4 separate regions of the Homo sapiens genome follow, and all the other regions are linked to region 2. The links come from fine-mapping of genetic effects on gene expression. A gene starts in region 2. Each other region holds a variant in brackets. All regions are shown on one strand. Distances are between the middles of the regions.

Region 1 (5,143 bases), 44 kb before region 2:
GCAAGGGACATCTACCCTGGCCCCTGCAGACGGTGCTCAAGCAGTCACTGGGAGGAGGGGAGAGGGGGCTGGCTCTAGCAGAGGGGTCGAAAAAGCTCTTGTGGCCTGCTGAACAGTGGGATCCCAGGTGAGAGGCAGGGCAGTATGGGAGAAAGAGACCAGGATAGGTAAGACCTGGTTTAATCCTTACAGTGAGATCCAAGGCCAATTCACTGAATTTCTCTGAACTGTTTCTTCATCCACAAATGAGGAAACTGATTTAGATTTGTGTTGTTTCAAACTACAGGGTGAAGCCTGAAGGACTGAGAAGGAGGTTGAGTGGGAGGGCCTTAGATGGTGATCCTCCCCCAACTAGAGCAGCTCTACTTTTATCTGTTTGCTTATTAGGGTGCCAGACATTTTATTTATTTATTTTTGAGACAGGGTCTCACGCTGCTGCCCAGGTTGGAGTGTGGTGGCAAGATTATAGCTCGCTGCAGCCCCAAACTCCAGGGCTCAAGTGATCCTTCCACTTCAGCCTCCTGAGTAGCTGGGACTACAGGCATGCACCACCACACTTGGCCTATTTTTTTTTTTTTTGGTAGAGGTAGGGTCTTGCTATATTGCCCAGGCTGGTCTAAATTCCTGCCCTCAAGAGATTCTCCTGCCTAAGGTTATTTTCAAAAAGAGCTTTCCTGGGGGGGGAAAACTTTAAAGCCAAAGAGGAGCTTTAGAGCTTTAGGATATCCTGACTTAGGGTTGTGGCTCTTGTCAGAGACCTGTTTCTTGGCATGAAAGCACATAAACTATAGAAAGATCCAACTGCCAGAGGGAGAGCTGGCCAGGCGTGGTGACTCACACCTGCAATCCCAGTGCTTTGGGAGGCCAAGGCAGGAGGGTCACTTGAACCCAGGAATTCAAGGCCAGTCTGGGCAACATAGCGAGACTCCATCATTACAAAAAAAAATACAAAAATTAGCCAGGTGTAGTGGCATGCTCCTGTGAGAATGGTTTGAGCCCCAAAGGTAAAGACCAGCCTGGGTGATAGAGCAAGACTCCATCTCAAATTTTTAAAAAGGCAGAGTCTTAACCCTATCCCTGGTCTGGGGAGCTCACAGGACAAGAGCTGTGGCTACCCAGGATCCTTGCTGAGGCTGGTTTTCATAACAGGAAGCTGGGAAGAGAGGCAGAGCGAGTGGTCTTACCAGCTTTGGTCCGCCACGATTCCTCCTCCAGGGCAGCCAGTAAGGAGGGGAGCACCAGCTTCACCCCGTGAGCACTCAAGTTGCTCATCACAGCCTTGGCACAGTCATCTGCAGCCTCAAGGGGGGAGAAAACACATTCAGGGGCCTCCTCACCCAAGCAAGGGGCAAGGCCTGACACCAGTCCTAGCGTTCCTCCTATAACCAACGCTTACTGGGGTTCTATTATGTCAGACCCTGTGCCAAGGCCTGCAGACACAGCTGGGAACACATCTCATAAAGTTTCCATGCTGTTCTCCCGAGCAGTCCGGGGACTTACCTCACGCACATACTGGTTTCCATCCCCAAAGCACAGGAGCAGATGGGGCAGCACGTGAACCACATACGGCTCAAAAAGTTTCCCCAGCATGGTGCAGAGCATCTCGAAGGCAAAGAGGGCTCCTAGGGGAAAAGAAGGTGGGACGGCTGGGAAGAGAATGTCCCCTGGGGGTAGCCACAGAGAACAGAAGGGACAGCAACCTCCCTGCCACCTCCCACCCCTCTGGAAACACTCAGAAACAGCTGTGGAACTAGTAGATGCCCCATGAGGAGGCAGCACCCTCTGCCTCAGCTCAAGAAGCCCCAGCAAAGGAATGTGGCTGAGCGAAAGGGAGGACAGCACAGGGGAGCCACCTTCACTTCTTGGCACTAACAGTTAAAAAAGCCAAACCTTGGCCGGGCGCGGTGGCTCACACCCATAATCCCAACACTTTGGGAGGCTGAGGCAGGCAGATCACGAGGTCAGGAAATAGAGACCATCTTGGCCAACATGGTGAAACCCTGTCTCTACTAAAAATACAAAAATTAGCTGGGTATGGTGGTGGGCACCTGTAACCCCAGCTACTAGGGTGGCTGAGGTAGGAGAATTGCTTGAACCCAGGAGGTGAAGATTGCAGTGAGCCGAGATTGTGCCTGGAGACAGAGTGGGACTCCATCTCAAAAAAAAAAGAAAGAAAGAAAGAAAGAAAAGCCAAACCTCTCTCAGCTAAGGGTGTTGCTGAGTTAGAAATTTGTGGCCGGGCGCGGTGGTTCATGCCTGTAATCCCAGCACTTTGGGAGGCTGAGGCGGACAGATCACGAGGTCAGGAGATCGAGACCATCCTGGCTAACACGGTGAAACCCCGCCTCTACTAAAAATACAAAAAATTAGCCGGGCGTGGTGGCGGGCGCCTGTGGTCCCAGCTACTTGGGAGGCTAAGGCAGGAGAATGGCATGAACCCAGGAGGCTGAGCTTGCAGTGAGCCAAGATCACGCCACTGCACTCTAGCCTGGGCGACAGAGCGAGACTCCGTCTCAAAAAAAAAAAACAGAAAAGAAAAAAAAATTTGCAAGTCCAAGGAAAGCAGCAAGGACGCAGCTGGACTGGGTCGCACACAGCGGGGCCCTCTGTAGTACACGCACAAGCA[A/G]CGGCCTCCACCTGGGGCGCCACGGTCAGATTCCTTCCTCTGGCAACCTGGGGACCAACTTCCCATGCTGGGCAGCCCCAAGCTCAGAGATGCTCACCCTCTCGCCGGCGGAAGTTCTTCTTATCTTGGATGGCATCAGTCAGTGCCGCCATCATCTCCTGTTGCTTCAGCGAGAGGATGCCCAGGCCCTTCACCAGGCCCGCCAGGCCATAGGCGGCCCCTTTGCGCTCTGCGTACTTGTCTGACTCCAGCAGCTGCTGCATAAGCCTCTGGATCATCCCTCCAGCATCCTCCTTGATGGCTGGCACAAGGGGTGGCAAGCAGCTGGCTACGGACTCCTGGACCTGGGGAAGGGCCCACCTGTCAATGCTGTGGCTCCGCTGCAGCCGTTTCATGGTTGGTGGGGGGTCTGACCATTCTACACAGCACCCACCACTAGATGTCCCAAGCCCCATCTCAGCCACTGCCTGCGGATGTCACAGGGCACCAGAGAAGCAAACAGGTATACACAGTGTTGTATACCTCTGAGGGTGCACACTACAATCTGCTGACGACAAAAGCTTTGGCCCATATGGTGCCATTTCTGGTCTAAATGGAAAACCTAGGCCTGGGCAGTGGGGCAGGGGACCAAGGAAGGGACTCTAAAGACTAAATCCACTCAGAAAGAAAGCTTCCAGAGAAGTGTGCTGCTTTGCCTCCATAAAAACAGCCCGTGTCTCTGTTTCCAAACTTGTCAAAATCACAGAGAAATTGGGCAGGGCCTTATAGGACCAGGCACAAATTGAGTGGAACCAAAAGACACTCAATCCTGCCTCCCAGCCGCAGCTCACTAAGCCCAGCTTGGGAGCAGCAACCCCGAGGCCATGCTGGCAGGTGCCCAGGTGCGACTCTTTTGCTGCTTAGGCTTTCTGACACCATATTTGACCACAATTTTGGAAACTGGTTTTCAACTGTGCATTTTTTTGGTAAAGTTTTTTGTTGTTTTTTGTTTTTGTTTTTAGAAATAGGGTCTTACTCTGTCACCCAGGCTACAGTGCAGTGGCACAATCATAATTCACTATAACCTTGAATTCCTGGACTCAAGCAATCCTATTGCCTCGGTCTCCTGAGTAGCTAGGAACACAGGCATGGCCTCCACCTCTGGCTAATTTTTAAAGTTTTTGTAGAGACAGGATCTCACTATGTTGCCCAGGCTGGTCTCGAACTACTGGCCTTAAGCAATCCTCCCACCTCAGCCTCCTAAAGCACTGGGATTATAGGCATGAGCCACCACGCCCAGCCCAACTGTTCACTTTATGAAGACACTCTAAGTGGTCCAAAATGCAAACCACACACACACGCGCACACACACACACACACACACAAAATATATATATATAAATATATATATATTTATATATATATACATGCGTGTTTTTCAAAACAAAGAAAAAGAAATTTATTTGCACTGTAGCTTAGAGGCTACATTAAAACGCACCTGTAGCCTCCTAAAGCACTGGGATTATAGGCATGAGCCACCACGCCCAGCCCAACTGTTCACTTTATGAAGACACTCTAAGTGGTCCAAAATGCAAACCACACACACACGCGCACACACACACACACACACACAAAATATATATATATAAATATATATATATTTATATATACATACATGCGTGTTTTTCAAAACAAAGAAAAAGAAATTTATTTGCACTGTAGCTTAGAGGCTACATTAAAACGCACCTGTAACACACAACCAACACATGTAGAGGGCCAGAAAAAGGCTTGACATAAGAGAAAGCCTGACCTTTTATTTTTTTTCCCTTTGGATTCCCAGTGCACGTTAGTGAATAGAAAAAATGGAACTATCTAGGAGGTCTATTAGAACAAAGTAACAAAGAAACTCCCTCTCCAGGGGCATTCTTCACTATAAACCAGGTGAGTAGAAAAAAATGAAACTATCTGGGAGGTCTACTAGAACAAAGTAACAAAGAAACTCCCTCTCCAGGAGTGTTCCTGACTATAAACCAGGCTCTCCCCTGCGAGAGGGGGTGAATCCTTAACAAGAACTGGGCTTTCAGGGCCCTGATTGTCCAACTCCACCCCTAGTATCCCACCGCCTAACCACAGCCGGGTCCCAATTCTCTAACCGACATGTGGGTCCCAGGCCAGATGGCAGGTACCTGCTGGGAGGGGGTGGAGAGGGCAGCGATGAGCTTGGCAACAATGGGCTTCACTTTGGGGTCACTCTTGTCCAGGTGCTTGGCCAGAGAGCCCATCAGGACCACCACACTCTGTCGCACAGCATCATAGCTGGCATCATTGGGCGCGTTCTTCAGGAACTCCTCGAATACTGGCAACAGCGAGTTGACGTTCTCCTGGAAAGCCAAACCCCTCAGAGCCTCAGGTCAACCCTACAGGCTGCATCTGGGGACAACAGTCCCTGCCCTGAGGACCAAGACCAAGTCTAGCTCTGGGACAGGCATCCTGACATGCCAGCCAGTGGCTCTTCCAGTTTTCTGGCAGGACTGCCAC
Region 2 (5,143 bases):
TTTGCCATTTGTCTAAATCTCAGTACATTTAGGGAGATCAGGTATTCCATCAAATTCCACCTTCCTAAGGAAATCTCTCCCAGAGTTTTCTGACCTGCCCCAATTAGGCATGTGATCCTCTACAGCTGGGGCACAGTTTATCACCCTGAACATGTACTTTCTTGTGTTTGGGTGAAGCACAGCCTCCATTTTGTAAACTCCTTGCAAGTATGAAAATGTTCTGGCCAAATACAGAATTCTAGGTTGAAATCATTTTCCTTTAGAATACTGAAGACAAGGCTGGGTGCAGTGGCTCACGCCTGTAATCCCAGCACTTTGGGAGGCCAAGGCAGGCAGATCACAAGGTCAGGAGATCGAGACCATCCTGGCCAACATGGTGAAACCGCGTCTCTACTAAAAATACAAAAAAAAAAATTAGCTGGGCGTGGTGCCGGGTGCCTGTAATCCCAGCTACTTGGGAGGCTGAGGCAGAAGAATCGCTTGAACCCGGGAGGCAGAGGTTGTAGTGAGCCAAGATTGTGCCACTGCACTCTAGCCTGGGCGACAGAGCGAGACTCCGTCTCGAAAAAAAAAAAAAAAGAATACTGAAGACAAGGCCGGGCATGGTGGTTCACGCCTGTAATCCCAGCACTTTGGGAGACAGAGGCGGACAGATTGCTTGAGGTCAGAAGTTCGAGACCAGCCTACCCAACATGGTGAAACCCTGTCTCTACAAAAACTAGCCGGGCATGGTGGCGCATGCCTGTAATCCCAGCTACTCGGGAAGCTGAGGCAGGAGAATTGCTTGAACCTGGGAGGCAGAGGTTGCAGTGAGTTCAGATCGTGCCATTGCACTCCAGCCTGGGCAACAAGAGAGAAACTCCGTCTCAAAAAATAAAATAAAATAATAAAAAATAATTTCAGGCCAGGTGCGGTGGCTCACGCCTGTAATCCCAGCACTTTGGGAGGCCAAGGCAGAAGGATCACCTGAGGTCAGGAATTCGAGACCAGCCTGGCCAACATGGAGAAACCCCATCTCTACTAAAAATACAAAAATTATAAAATACAGAAATATTCTCCTGCACCACCCAATACGGTAGCCACTGGCTACATGTGGCTAACTGTGCACTGAAATGTGGCTGGTACAAGTGAAGAACTAAATTTTTTTTTTTTTTGAGACAGAGTCCCACTCTTGTTGCTCAGGCTGGAGCGCAGTGGTGCGATCTCAGCTCACTGCAACCTCTGCCTCCCAGGTTCAAGCGATTCTCATGCCTCAGCCTCCTGAGTAGCTGGAATTACAGACATGCCACCATACCCGGTTAATTTTTTGCATTTTTAGTAGAGACGGGGTTTTGCCACGTTGGTCAGACTAGTCTCAAACTCCTGACCTCAACTGATCCACCCGCCTTGGCCTCCCAAAGTGCTGGGATTACAGGGTGAGCCACCACGCCCAGCCAAACAATGAATTTTTTTATTTAATTTAATTTTAACAAACTTAAGCCATGTGGCTGCCATACTGGACATTGCAGCTCTAGAGATTTTTCCCTCAAGTGAGTATCAATGTTAAACATTCAGCATGTATTCCCCTAACCCTCTCATACTAAGCTTTTCTTTCTAGTATTCAGTACAACATAACTTGAACATCAGCCACCTGCATAGGAGTCTCAGTAAATGTCTTTTTGAATGCTTAAGTGGTCATTTTCTGGGCCTACACATAAAAATCAATCCCATCACCCTGGAGACACCAAATCAGCCCAGCTGTCCTTAGACACCTGTTCTTCCCCTGCCTCATGACAATGTCTTTTCACCTTAAAACATAACAACTGGGTGGAGGAAAAGGTTTTCCCAGGTCCTTCCTGAACTACAAGGTACCCATAGGTAACACTCTTCCTGGACAGGACAGTTCTTTTCACTAACCCTGGATCTGATAACAACCAACATATATCAAGCCGTATTTTATCTCACTGAACCTTCACAACAACCTTTTAAGATAAGTATTGTTTTAACTTCATTTTATAGATGAAAAGGCAGACTTGGCGGGGTTAAGTCACTTGTTTGGCATGTCACAGAAATCGACGAGCAGGAACTCAAGCCCAGATCTGTATGAATCCAAAGACTACACTCAAAGTCCCTGCTCATAGTAGGTGCTCAAAGAATATTTGCTGAATACAAAGTTTAAGGAAGACTTGGCGTTGGCCCGGGGCTCACAGCCGGAGGGCTTTGGAGAAAAGAAGTAGAGGCTCGGTAAAGTGAACTTCTGCAACTCTGGGGTCGGGCAAAGGCCCCGCCGAGCTCCAGCTGCTGAAGTCGAGGCGGGAGCCCCGGACTCCTCGAGCCCGCGGTCTGCCTGCGCCGCCCGGGCCGGGCCAAGCCCGCAGCCCTGAGAGTCCAGCCTGAGACGGCCCCGAGACTACGACCTCCACAGCCACCACCTCCAACGCCCCTAAGCCGAGGAGCGAGAGGGGCCCCGCCCGACGGCCACCGTCCGCACCCAGTCCCTGGCCGCGTTGGCCCCGCAGCCGCCCGCCTCACCTGCGTGTCCGCCGCCATCCTGCCGGGGCTGACTCCGGAACCGCTTCCGGAACGCTTCCGGGTCACAGCGTGGCCCACGCGGCAGGGCGAGGCCGGGAGCCAGCGGGGGCAGGGCCCCGGGCTTGGTGCCCCCGGGCAGGACGGCGGCCGCTGCAGCCCGGGCAGCCGGATCACGGGCTTAAAGTTGGCCCGCGCCCGAGCCACAAGGCCTCCTCCCCAGGGCCCGCTCTTCAGCCCCGGGCGCCTCGTGGGAGACTAGCGCTTGTAACGTGGTGAGCCCGCGGTGTAACGCTATGGGCCCGCCTTGCAGCCCCTGACCCACTTCCAGCCCGCAGGGCCAGCCCTACGTGGGCCTTTCCTGAGTGATGACTAAGTTCTTTAGAAAAACAAGTGTTGCTTCCTAGATAGCAGGAACTAAAAACTAGGTAAAAGAGTCGGTGAACTAGTCTTTTGTCCTCAGTTTGTAGTTCAGTTGGCGGATGACTTGTACAGGGTTAGCAAACGTGGCTGGATACGGAGGTCAGGGAAGGTTCAGAACTGAACGAGGCCCCTGCCCTGGGGAAATGCTGGACGCCCCAGGCTGGGAGTTTTGAAGGCCACAGGGCAAGAGGCTACGTGCAGACGTGGCTGCAATTTAGGGAACAGGGTCTCCACAGCTTAGTTGTCAGCCCTGTTAGCAGTGGCTTTCAAACCTTTGACACAGACCTAGTTAGAATGAATATATCATGTTCCAGCAGACAGATCTCTAAGTGAAATACAGGAATCACAACAAAAACACCTATTCTCAGCAGATGCTGCTTTCTCTTTAAATACTGGGGCCAGGCATGGTGGCTCACGCCTGTAATCCCAGCACTTTGGGAGGCTGAGGTGGGTAGATCAACCTGATGTTAGGATTTCCAGACCAGCCTGGTCAACATGACAAAACCTTGTCTCTACTAAAAATACCAAAAAAAAAAAAAAAAAAAAAAAAGGCCGGGTGCGGTGGCTCACCCTTGTATAATTCCAGCGCTTCGGGAGGACAGGGCGGGCAGATCACAAGGTCAGGAGTTCCAGACCAGCCTGGCCAACATAGTGAAACCCCGTCTCTACTAAAAGTACAAAAATTAGCCGAGTGGTGGCACATGCCTGTAGTCCCAGCTACTGGGGAGGCTGAGGTGGGAGAACCGCTTGAACCCGAGAGGCAGAGGTTGCAGTGAGCTGAGACCATACCATTGCACTCCAGTCTGGGTGACAGGACGAGACTGTCTCAACAACAAAAAAATTAGCCCGGTGTGGTGGCAGCCTCCGGTAATTGCAGCTACTTGGGAGGCTGAGGCAGGAGAATCACTTGAACCCAGGAGGCGGAGGTTGCAGTGAGCCAAGTCCAAGCCACTGCACCCCAGTCTCAAATATATTTGAGACTATCTCGAAAATATAAATTGGTTACCACCGAGTTGGAGCACCACCCAGTTTGAAAAACTTTACTCTAGGGGACTGGCCCCAGCATCCACCAGGTGCCTATCTCAGCTGACACTAAACCTACTCCAAGTATGCAGCAGCCATAGAAACAGTAATTCTAGTGTAATAGTTACAACTGTGTCTAGAAAACTGTATAGGATGTTTGATTGGTAGCTTCATTTAGATACCCAAACATCAACACCTAAATACAAAGCTCTGGTTTTACCATGGCTTTCGTTTCTAGCATATGGCACTATAAACCTCAAAATTAAGGGCCAGGCACATGGTGGCTCAAGCCTGTAATCCTAGCACTTTGGGAGGCTGAGGCAGGATTCCTTGAGGCCAGGAATTTGAGACCAGCTTGTGCAATATCTCTACAAAAAAAAAATTTAAAAATTAGTAGCTGAGTGTCATGGTGTGTGCCTGTAGTCCCAGCTACTTGGGAGGCTGAGATACGAGGATCCCTTGATCCCAGGAGTTCAAGGGTGCAGTGAGTTATGATTACACCACCACACTCCAGCCTGGGCAACAGCCAGACCCTGTGTCAAAAAGGAAAAAAAATTACAAAATTAAGAGTCCAGAGACTTTTTAAAGAAGTAAGCCTTTATTTCCTTGTTTTGCAAATAAAACTGGCTAAGTTGGTTGCTTTTTGGTGATTAGTCAAAGAGACCAAATCCCATATCCTCGTCCGACTCCTCCGACTCTTCCTTGGCTTCAACCTTAGCTGGGGCTGCAGCAGCAGCAGGAGCAGCTGTGGTGGCAGCAGCCACAGGGGCAGCAGCCACAAAGGCAGATGGATCAGCCAAGAAGGCCTTGACCTGAAAGGAGGGGGGAAGTGGTCAAAATGGTCATCCACACTCCTCTATTACCCACCACCCTCCTGCCTTGGTAGAGTTTAAGGACCAACAATATCAAAGTCCGTGTGAAGCCTTTCCTGTCAGAAGCAGCCCAAGCAGGACAGCTTGGGTATGGCCTAGTGAGGCAGGGTTCCTAAGGCCCAGCTCTTGCCCATTAACCCCCTCTTTGGGTCTCTTGTCATTTCTCAAGTGAGAAACGCCTTCCCTGCCTCCCAACCTCTCAAATATCCCCTCACAAAATTATCTGCTATATAAAATACAACTATAAAAGCAGTAAGGTAGAAGGCCACATCACCCTGCTAATTTGTCACAGTCAGGCCCACTGTGGTCCTGGTGGG
Region 3 (5,143 bases), 29 kb after region 2:
GGGGCAAGGCACCCAAACACTGAGATGCCAAGATCCAGCTACCCACACTGAGGTAAGGGAGGAGAAGGATGAGGGAGGGGCGGCAGGGCAGGGAAGATGGAGGGTTCACAGGGCACCTTGAAATCCGACAGCGAAGCCATCAGCTCGTCCAGCTCCCTGGTGGCAGAGGAGGCCGAGATGCGTGTCTGCTGTTGGGTGGAGGTGACGCGCTGCGGGCTGCTCATCTCGCCCTGGTTCACAGTGATGGCAGGGCTGCAGGGTGGGCACAGCATCAGTGGGGAGCCCACAGTCAGCCCCACACTTCCCGGGGATCAGATCGACCTCTCACCTCGGACACTGGGGTCTCACCATCCCCAACCCCAGGGAGGTCCACCAGCTCCCTGTCTCTCCTGGGGACCCATCACTGGGTCAGAAGAAAGGGCAGTTCAATGGCACCAGGAAGTGCCAGGAAGACTCCTCTAGCCCCCAGCCCAAGTGAAAGCTGGCCTGCGAAACAAGCCCAAGCGCCCTGTGTTTCCTCCACAACACTGGACATGGAGGTGAGGCTACTGCAGTAACACGACGGCACTGGTAAGAGCTCGCGTGTTGGGCACTCACCATGTGTGCCACGCACTACACACCAGAAACCATTCCAAGCGCTTTACATGGATTACTGGTTCTCACCCTTACTGAGGTAGGTGGTCTTATCCCAGTGATCCCATAAGTTCTTGTCCCATTTTACAGATGGGAAAACTAAGGCTTGAGAGCTGACAGTAACTGTCAGAGCCAAGATGTGAACCCCACTGTGTGGCCCCAAAGCCTGTGCTAAGAGCTGCTAAGCTCCAGGCGCCCTCAGCCTGCACAACGTCTGTCCTTTCTGACTGGCAGTGACTGGCTGAAGGCAGGGATGGTGTCCATGTGACTCACCACTATCCCCCCAGTGCCTGGCAAATGGCAGACACGGGAGGGAGTGGGTGATACCAGGGCTAAGGGGACAGACACTGGACCCGGGGCAGGCTGGGCCAGCCCTTCCCCACCTGGGGAGGGCCCAGTGGGTACTCACACGGGGCTGGGCACGGAGCTCTCCAGTTCATCCAAGAGACTCTCCACACTGGGCCGCACGTCCTCCAGGCCCCGGCCCCCATTCCGCTTAGGCTTCTCTTTCGTCAGGGGCCCAGCTTTGCCTCCCAAGGGGCTGTTAGTCTCTGGGACACCATAGAGGGGGCTCAGGGCCCCAGGAAGCGGGGGGCTTGAGTTGGCCTCATCTTGCAGAGAGGAGAGAAAAAGGCTGCTCAGCCCTTGAGCCCTCCTGGGATCTAGAGGTCAGCAGATGGGCCCTGGGCCCTGGTAGACCCTGCCCCAGGGACCCGGTCCTACCTGCAGGGAAGCCTGGCGGGTTATGCTGTACAGCGTTCAGTTCCAGCAGCAGGCGGTCGAGTTCAGAAAGGTTGCTGCCCAGGGACGTGCTCATTACGGTGGGTGAAGGCTCAGCTGATTTCTGCTTGTTGGGGAAGCTTTGAGAGGCAAAGGAAAGAAGATAGTGAGAGATGCTTTCTGGCCTTGTACTGGCTTGGCAGTTCCCAGATTCCCAAGGAGAACAAGGCAGAGGAGATGCGAAGTCTTCCCCCGCAAGAGGACAGAGGGTAGGGAAGGGATGTGGTAAGAAGAGGGGAGGAGGCCGGGCACAGTGGCTCACGCCTGTAATCCCAGCACTTTGGGAGGCTGAGGCGGGCAGATCATGAGGTCAGGAGATTGAGACCATCCTGGCTAACACGGTGAAACCCCGTCTCTACTAAAAATTAGCCAGGCGTGGTGGTGGGTGCCTGTAGTCCCAGCTACTTGGGAGGCTGAGGCAGGAGAATGGCGTGAACCCAGGAGGCGGAGCTTGCAGTGAGCCGAGATCGCGCGACTGCACTCCAGCCTGGGCGACAGAGTGACAGAGCGAGACCCCGTCTCAAAAAAAAAGAAAAAAAGAAGAGGGGAGGAATGAAGTCTTGCTTCAGTTCCTCAGCTACACGGAGATGCTGTGATAGCCCAGAATGTCCACTGCATGGAGATGGCACTGATGAGGTAGACGGGCCCACCGACAGGCCTTCTGCAGCTTAAACCAGAATAACCCCACAAGGCCCAGTTGCTATGCCTGCTCCCGGGCCTCCGCTGCCTCCCACCCTGGCCAGGTCCCTGAGATTTCTAAGCAGGAGGGAAGGTGCCCTGGGCAGACTGGGGCAGTACCTGTAGACGTGCTCCTCCTCACCCACTCGGGAGCACGGAGAGCCAACACTGTCCTGAGGGTTGGAGACACTGGAAGTTTTGGCACTGGAGCCGTACACAGGTGATGAGGACTGAGGCTGCGAGAAGGAGAATGCTCAGAGGCTACCCCGAGGGGAGAAAAAGGAACAGGGGCCAGGAGCAGCTCCAGTCACCCCCAGGAGGCTCCTGCCCACAGCCAGTCTCACCAGGGAATTTCCACAGTTGGGCCAGGAAACCTGTGATTAACCACTTGGTCACTGTTCCACTCACGTGGTGAGTGGGAAGAGCAGTGTCTGGTTGGGAAGGGTCGACTGCCCCAATTCCATTCCATCCCCTGGCTCCCTAAGCCCCTGCCAGCTAAGTTCCCTCTGTCCCCCAGCCTCCTTGGCCTTCCCAGCCACTGTCCCCGCCTCACCTGCTGGTGGATGAATCGGGAGC[T/C]GCTGGGCTGCCACTGGTCTAAGGGGTCAAGGATTGTGCCATTGAGGGCCTCGCTGGACGGGGGTGGGGGGACGGGGGGTGGCACGGCAATCTCCTGGTATGTGTGGTTTCCAGTTGGGTATGAGTAGGGGGTCTCCTCCGACAAGAACACAGGCCGTTTGGAGATGTGGGAGGTGGTAGACTCCAAGTCCGCCAGCAGGGCGTCTGCAAAGAGAAGGCACGGGTAGCAGGTGAGAACCGGGATCCTGGGGACTCTCCCGTGGCAGGGCCCTCCCTGCCTGCACCTCAAGAGTTAATGCCTTCTAGCACCTGCCCCACCCATGGGAGAAATGACCAGCCTTGGGACAGGAAGCCACCAGCCCCGACCAGCCTAACCAAGAGCCGGCTCCCAAAGCTAACTTCTTCTGGCCACCCAGGACTGAAAGTGCTCTAGAGGCGGGCTCTGGGGCTGCCCTGTGGGATCTCCTACCTCTGGGAGTCAGGCACCTGGCACTGCGTTCCCTCCTGACAGGGCCGCGCAGCCGCGAGTGAAGTGCCTGTCTGGAACTCTGAATCTGCAGGGCAACGCGGAGAGAATGGGCGGGAGGGGCCCCACGTCACAGGGAGGGGCCCTGGCTATGCCAGGCCCTCACTTGATTTCTAAGAGCTTAGGCTTTCCCAGCCCCCGACTGGAAGGGGCACTCAGGATGGTCCCTGCCCTCCTAACCAGGTGGAAGCAGAAGCCCAGGCTCCAGGTTCCTCCTGAGGCTCTAGGCTTATGGGGTAAGGTGTGCGGGGAGGTGGGGGCTGGAGTGAGGCTGGTGCAGCGGTCCCCACCCCCTCAGTGAGCAGGGGGCAAGACTGCTCCATTGGCTGTTTCTGCGGAAGTCTGGCAAGCAGCCCGGCCCCAGAGGCTCCAGGCCCCCACTGTTCTGCTTTTAACAGCGGCAAGGGAGCCAAATCAGCCCTCTAGTGTAAGCTTCCATTACCCTGGCACCTGGCAGCCAACAGGGGGGCACTAGGTCTCCCCAGTCTCCAGAAAAGAAGGGTATAGAAGGGCAGGAGTAGGACCTGCTGACCCCCACTTCCTCCATCCCCTCCTGGGACCCTCAACAGCCCCACGGCTCAGACAGCCTGGCCCTGGATGCCACACCCTCATTCCTGCCCCGTTCACAACTTGCTTGCTCTCAGCTCCCCGGTAACCTGCTGGGTCCAGGGAGCTGACAGCTTGATCCCTAGCCCTCAGGATAATAAACATCTAAAAAGCAATGGCTGCGTTTATTGCCACTTATCAGTAGCAGGCAGACTGCTAGGCATTCTAGCAGCATGTACGAGGTCTCCGTTAATCCCCCTAATACCCCCTGTAGCTGGAAATGATTCTCCCCGAAGCGATGAGGAAAGCCGGGCTTGGAGAGGCAGAGGTCAGAGGTGTTTGCTCCAAATAACAAAGCCAGTGAGTGGCACAATTGTCTGACTCCTCAGAAGCCCCAAACCCCAAAAACCTGGCCTGTAAGAGGCCACTATGACTACCAGATGATGCCATACTTAAAGGGTTCAACTTCCTGAATGTTGGAGGCCCAAGCTGTGAGGCCTGCCAGTGTGATCCTTCCTTGTGGCCTTGCTCCCAGTCCCCCAACCTGTGTTCAGAGGAGGGAATAGAGAAGCAAGGCCCTCACCCAGGGCCTCGGTCTATGGGGCCACACCTTGTCCCAGCTGCCTGTCCTGATCTCCTACCCTCAAGGCTGGCCACACCTACCCCATGCTCCTGCCCAGATGGACAGAGGGGATGTCTGTTCCAAGGCCCAGGACCCCGGGTCTGGTCGCCTGACCTCCAAGGAAGTTCAGGTCCTACAGCCCGCCCCGCCCTCCGGGTCCCATGGAGGAGGCCTGGCTTCCTGTCTCTAGCAAACCGGAACTAGAGGGAGTTGGTAGGTATCTAGGTAACGGCAGAAAAGGAACCAGTGTCCAGGCCAATCCCCACGGCCTCTCCAGGGCCACACCTGCTGTCTTGGCTTCACGCAGTGTCCTCATTTCCTCTGGGCCCAATCAGCAATGGGTGGATCCCTCTTTCTCCACCATGGGCAGGGCCAGCTAAGAAACCCCATAGGACTCCCCAGAGCAGGCAACGAATGAGTGCAACCCCAGTAGGGGGCAGGAGCAGCTGCCATCCTTGAAGGCCCACTGGGGCCAGGAGCTTCACCTTTGTTACCTGCCATCCTCACAACGCCACCAGCACAGATGGTATAACTGCGGTTCAGAGGCAGAGTCACATCCCACACTGCCAAGGCTGGATGAAGTGACAATGCTGGACTCTGATCTCAGGTCTCTTGGACTCCAAACACCCAACAGAAGACAAATGGTCAGGCTTCCTTGTCAAACATTTTGAATCAGGGACTCCACCAAACACCCGCTCCACCACAATGTGATTCTAAGCCTGGGCTTTTGGTTTATGGATTGGATTCAGGTTTACAATGTCAACAGGCTCTTGGGAGCACAG
Region 4 (5,143 bases), 120 kb before region 2:
TTTTTTTTTTTTTTTGAGACGGAGTTTCATTCTTGTCGCCCAGGCTGGAGTGCAATGGCGCAATCTCGGCTCACTGTCACCTCCGCCTCCTGGGTTCAAGCGATTCTCCTGCCTCAGCCTCCCGAGTAGCTGGGATTACAGGCGCCTGCCACCATGCCCAGCTAATTTTTGTATTTTAGTAGAGACAGATTTCACCATGTTGGCCAGGCTGGTCTCGAACTCCTGATTTCAGATGATCTGCCCCCTTTGGCCTTCCAAAATGCTGGTGTTACAGGCGTGAGCCACCACGCCCGGCCTGGTTGGTATAACTCAAGTCTTTTTTTATTTCTGTGTTCCTCCTTTATCTGTTTTTTCCCTTGCAATGTTTTTGTTAAGGAAATGGAGTTGTTTGTCCTATAGAATTTTCTTTTTTCTTTTTTTCTTTTTTGAGGTGGCGTCTCGCACTGTCACCCAGGTTGGAGTGCAATGGCGTGATCTTAGCTCATTGCAACGTCCGCCTCCTGGGTTCAAGCGATTCTCCTGCCTCATTCCCCAAGTAGCTGGGATTTCAGGTACCCGCCACCACGCCCAGCTAATTTTTGTATTTTTAGTAGAGGCAGGGTTTCATCATGTTGGCCAGGCTGGTCTCATACTCCTGACCTTAGGTGATCTGCCCGCCTCGGCCTCCCAAAGTGCTGGGATTACAGGGGTGAGCCACCGCGCCCAGTCAGAATTTTCTAGATCTGGATTTTGCTGAGTGCATCTCCTGATGTAGTTTAACATGTTCTTCTCTCCTATTTATTTTTCTATAAATTGGTGGTTGGATCCAGAAGCATGATCAGGTTGAGGGTCAGTTTGTCTTGGTTTTTGTGTTTGGTAAACCTCAACCATTTGCTCTTTCTTTGAAAGCTGCACCAAAGCCAGCTGGAGCTTCAGGAGGTGCGTCTCTCCTGCCGACAGCTGCAGGTGAAGGTGGAAGAACTCACTGAGGAGAGGAGTCTGCAGAGCTCTGCCGCCACCAGCACATCCCTCCTGTCAGAGATCGAGCAGAGCATGGAGGCTGAGGAGCTGGAGCAGGAGCGAGAGCAGGTGCTGACCTGCCTGTCACCCCACAGGCGAGGCTACCTGGGGTTGCTTAGGTCTCATCCTCCTCCCTAGTGCTCAGCTGCCATCCTGGCAAGGCTGTGCCCCTGTGCCTGTGTCAGCCCCTTGGCCTGCTGGCTAGAGTGTCATGAAGCAGGCCCTGATGGAGCATGTCCCTGGCCCTCCATTTTCCACCCACTTTATCCATTAAGGCATTGAGCAGAATTGCTAGAGGACAGAGTATCATAGGCACAGCCAATTCCCACTCATTGTCACCCCAGTTCCTCTTAGGAAATGCTTGTGCCATCAGCTCCATACCTGTTATACTGACAGAGTTCCAGAGCAGTCATGATCCATCTTCTCCATCTAACTGGTTTCTTTTCACACTTTTCATAATACAGAACCATTCATTCCCCTGATTGTTTTCTGACTCCCACCAAAATAACTGATTATATAAAGAAGTGCTTTATATTGTGAATGGAAGAAGCTAGAGAACAGGGAGAATAAGAATTTGGAATCTGTATAAATGTACTTGGTTCAGAATAAGTATTATTTCTTGGGACAAATGAGTTAAAAAAAAAACACAGAACAAAAAACCCTTTCTTCTAGAACTGGTGTCTTGGGTATCAGTATTTTGGGTTCAGAGCTAGAAAAAGATGGCCAGGTAGCAGTCTTCTCTAGAGTCTGAAATGAATAGTAATTCTCTGTGGAACAGCTGAGACTGCAGCTCTGGGAAGCCTACTGCCAGGTTCGCTATCTGTGCTCACACCTTCGAGGCAATGACAGTGCTGACTCAGCCGTCTCCACGGACTCCTCCATGGACGAGTCTTCAGAAACCTCGTCCGCCAAGGATGTGCCAGCCGGCAGCTTGCGCACTGCCCTCAATGAGCTCAAGAGACTGATACAGAGCATTGTGGATGGCATGGAGCCCACGGTAAGAGGCCAGTCTGAGATGGTCCTTACCCCACAGGAGCTGGCTGGTGGGAGGTTAGAACCCAGTGCATAGGGTGAGGTCAGCCATGGAACTGGAACCCTATAAAATATCTGCAAGAATTCTTCTGAGCCCTTATTGGTTGTTTTGGATTTTGTTTTTGAGACAGAGTCTCGCTCTGTTACCCCGGCTGGAGTGAGGTGGCACAATCTCGGCTCACTGCAACCTCTGCCTCTCAGGTTCAAGTGATTCTCGTGCCTCAGCTCCCTGAGTAGCTGGGATTACAGGCGTGCACCACCAACCACACCCAGCTAGTTTTTGCATTTTTAGTAGACACAGGGTTTTACCATGTTGGCCAGGCTAGTTTTAACT[C/G]TTGACCTCAAGTGATACACCCATCTCAGCCTCCTAAAGTGCTGGGATTGCAGGCGTGAGCCACCACGCCAGGCCGTGAGCCCTTATTTGAGAACACCAACTACTGCTGTGATGAGGCAGAGGGGCCAAGTGTCAGGGCTCCAAAGGCAGCTTCCTGCACACACCAGGTACACATAGAGCCTTTTTCTCCAGGTAGTGATGTACAGACAATGGCAGCTTCCAGTTTAAGGGCTTTCCTTGGAAACTTTGCATATAGAAGTTTGTATCCAAGTAAAAACTGTAAGTTGCTATTCTATAGCCCTTTGGTCCTAGTGGTAGGGTTAGCTGTGAATTGGCAAAAGTAAAAGATCTGAAGCTTCCGCCAAAAGAATGTAAGTGAGCACAGGAAGTTGGGAAGATCAGCTCTAAGGGCCTTTTAGAATCCTAGATGTGGCCACCTGTGGAGGAGAGGACTGTTCCCGTGGGCATCCTGGGCAGTCTGGCATTTCTTCCAGCTTCATGACACATTTCTCCCCGACTTACCCTCCACTCACGCTCCCAGCTTTTTGGCTATTATTTCTCCTCACGTTTCATCCTCCTACAGAAAACTTGTGTCTTTCTGCCTGTATTGGGTAAAGTAATATGAAGGGTAGCTGTTCTGTCTGACCATGCCGTATTGATCTGTGGGAGGTATTATACTATGAGGCCAGGTCATTGTGGGAGAAGAGAGCTGTCAGAATGTGATGGTGTGCTATTCCCACCACACGGCTTCCTTTCCCCCAAGCCTGAAACAAAAGTGAACATCTGTTTGCAGGTTGAAATTGAGCAATCTCTTTTTTTTGTTTGTTTTTTGTTTTTTTGAGACGGAGTCTCGCTCTGTTGCCCAGGCTGGAGTGCTGTGGCGCCATCTTGGCTCACTGCAACCTCTGCCTCCCGGGTTCACGCCATTCTCCTGCCTCCCAAGTAGCTGGGACTACAGGTGCCCACCACCACACCCGGCTAATTTTTTGTATTTTTAGTAGAGACAGGGTTTCACCGTGTTAGCCAGGATGGTCTCGATCTCCTGACCTCGTGATCTGCTGCCTCGGCCTCCCAAAGTGCTGGGATTACAGCGTGAGCCACTGCGCCCGGCCACAATCTCTCTTCTTGACCCCTTCTTCCTTCCACCTTTTGTCTCTTCCCTCCTCCTTTTCTCCTTCCCTTCATCTTCCCTACTATCTTTCCCCACTATCTTTCCCCACATCATTCCTCCACTCTCCCCCATTTCTCCTCTCCTTCTCTCCCCGACTAACCATCTCTCTCCCCCTTCCCTATCTCTCCTGTACCCTTACCATATCTGTCTGGCTGTCTTTCTTTTACTGTCAGGGCTCCCGGAGACTTGATGATGACTCCTTAGAAGAACAGATAAGGCAGACCAGTGAGGACTCGAGAGCCCTAAGGGAGCTCATGGAGGGAGAGAGGGGTAAACTGAGGCAAAGCCTAGAAGAGCTGCAGCGACTCCACAGTCAGGTGAGCACCCCAACCTTCAGTTCAGTGCAGGGCATGTGCACCTGCCCCTGGCTCTCTTGGGACCCTTTTGAGTTTCTCTCTCCCATTTCTGTGTGAGAAGTGGCTCTCCTTCATCAGATCATCAAGGAATGGTGACCTGAAGTTGAGGTAAACTGAATGTCTTCAAGAGAAGAACCCAGTCCTTTAGCCCAAAGTAAAATTGGCAGGGATGAGAATGGCTGGTCCTCCATTTCCTCCAGTGACACTCTGCCTTATACAGAGCCAAAGTTAATCTGACTGGTAGATGCTGACAGCCCTCGGGCTACTTATGGGTGCTTTTCCAGCAGTTGCTGGGCAGGGAAGTTTGCAAACCAAGGAACAATTGATCTTTACAGCACAGTTCCCTTTTGTAAGTGCCATCACTTCTCTCAGCCTGTTCTTCTGCTTTAGAAGAACTTACTGCTACCCTTGCTGTTCCTTTCTCATTTGATCACGATTTCATCTCTCTAGAGAACGCTGAAGGAAGACATTTATATTCTCATCTGAGAAACTTTAAAGGACTTATAGGCAGCCCCACCCAAAAAGGAGCTTCTAAAACCTATCCTAGGAGATAGATAAAGGCTCTTCCTGTTGACTGTGGTCATGTGTAGAGGTTCTGTGCTGCTTGGGAGTAGGGGCTGGGGTAGCACCAAGCAAGCAGCATCTAAACCTTGCTCCTGCCCCTGTCCTTTCCTGGCTCAAAGCTGTTCACGCCTTGCTGCTGCATGAGGTTTCTTTGAGATGGAATTTAAGCCTGCCTTTCACTTCAGTCAGTATTTCCTCTTTTTTTTTTTTTTTTATTTCTTTTTGAGACAGGGTTTCACTCTTGCCCAGGCTGGAGTATAGTGGCGCAGTCACAGCTCATTGCAGCCTTGACTTCTAGGCTCAAGCAATCCTTCCACCTCAGCTGCCAAAGTAGCTGGGACTACAGGCGTACGCCACCATGCCCAACTAATTTTTTGTAGAGATGAGGGTTCGCCATGTTGCCTAGGCTGGTCTCAAACTCCTGGGCTCAAGAGAACCACTCACCTCAGACTCTCAAAGTGCTGGGATTACAGGTGTGACCCACCACATGTGGCCCCAGTCAGTATTTCCTACATTTGAAATATCTTTATAGAAAGAAACTCCCCTTTTCTGGGAGTCATCCCGTTAGTCTTCCTGATATTTTCTTGGAAAATATCGGGAGACCCACCTCCAGCCATCTACTGTCCTCTTCTTTCTGTGAGTGACCAGATAACAAGGACACAAAGATGCCATTTCAATCTGTGGCTT

The links. PIP is the estimated chance that this variant, and not a neighbour inherited with it, causes the effect.
Region 1: its variant is the best candidate, but not a certain one, in a credible set for the expression of GCN1 in lung (GTEx, PIP 0.51).
Region 3: its variant is the best candidate, but not a certain one, in a credible set for the expression of GCN1 in sigmoid colon (GTEx, PIP 0.67).
Region 4: its variant is the best candidate, but not a certain one, in a credible set for the expression of GCN1 in whole blood (INTERVAL, PIP 0.71).

What each region holds. Positions count from the first base shown.
Region 1 is chr12:120,148,422-120,153,564 of GRCh38, forward strand. It overlaps GCN1 (GCN1 activator of EIF2AK4), which reads right to left. Exons shown (of 58, transcript NM_006836.2): 33 at 4,792-4,986; 34 at 2,724-2,970; 35 at 1,501-1,622; 36 at 1,185-1,299. Among named protein-coding and RNA genes, the nearest start is that of MIR4498, 4.5 kb to the right of the region's middle. The variant A/G (reference allele first, on the strand shown) is at 2,627.
Region 2 is chr12:120,192,169-120,197,311 of GRCh38, forward strand. It overlaps GCN1 (GCN1 activator of EIF2AK4), which reads right to left and starts at 2,547. Exons shown (of 58, transcript NM_006836.2): 1 at 2,512-2,547. The coding sequence starts at 2,529. RPLP0 (ribosomal protein lateral stalk subunit P0) reads right to left here. Exons shown (of 8, transcript NM_001002.4): 8 at 4,531-4,766. The coding sequence ends at 4,605. RefSeq lists a silencer at 2,255-2,844.
Region 3 is chr12:120,221,507-120,226,649 of GRCh38, forward strand. It overlaps PXN (paxillin), which reads right to left. Exons shown (of 15, transcript NM_001385981.1): 2 at 2,645-2,871; 3 at 2,212-2,327; 4 at 1,357-1,493; 5 at 1,043-1,244; 6 at 117-252. It overlaps LOC124903034 (a long non-coding RNA gene), which reads left to right. Exons shown (of 3, transcript XR_007063487.1): 2 at 1-2,897; 3 at 2,974-3,915. Among named protein-coding and RNA genes, the nearest start is that of PXN-AS1, 23 kb to the left of the region's middle. RefSeq lists silencers at 3,382-3,431, 3,740-4,034 and enhancers at 3,549-4,230, 4,848-4,897, 4,914-5,143. The variant T/C (reference allele first, on the strand shown) is at 2,668.
Region 4 is chr12:120,070,734-120,075,876 of GRCh38, forward strand. It overlaps BICDL1 (BICD family like cargo adaptor 1), which reads left to right. Exons shown (of 10, transcript NM_001367886.1): 5 at 889-1,068; 6 at 1,778-1,996; 7 at 3,710-3,853. Among named protein-coding and RNA genes, the nearest start is that of RAB35, 43 kb to the right of the region's middle. The variant C/G (reference allele first, on the strand shown) is at 2,366.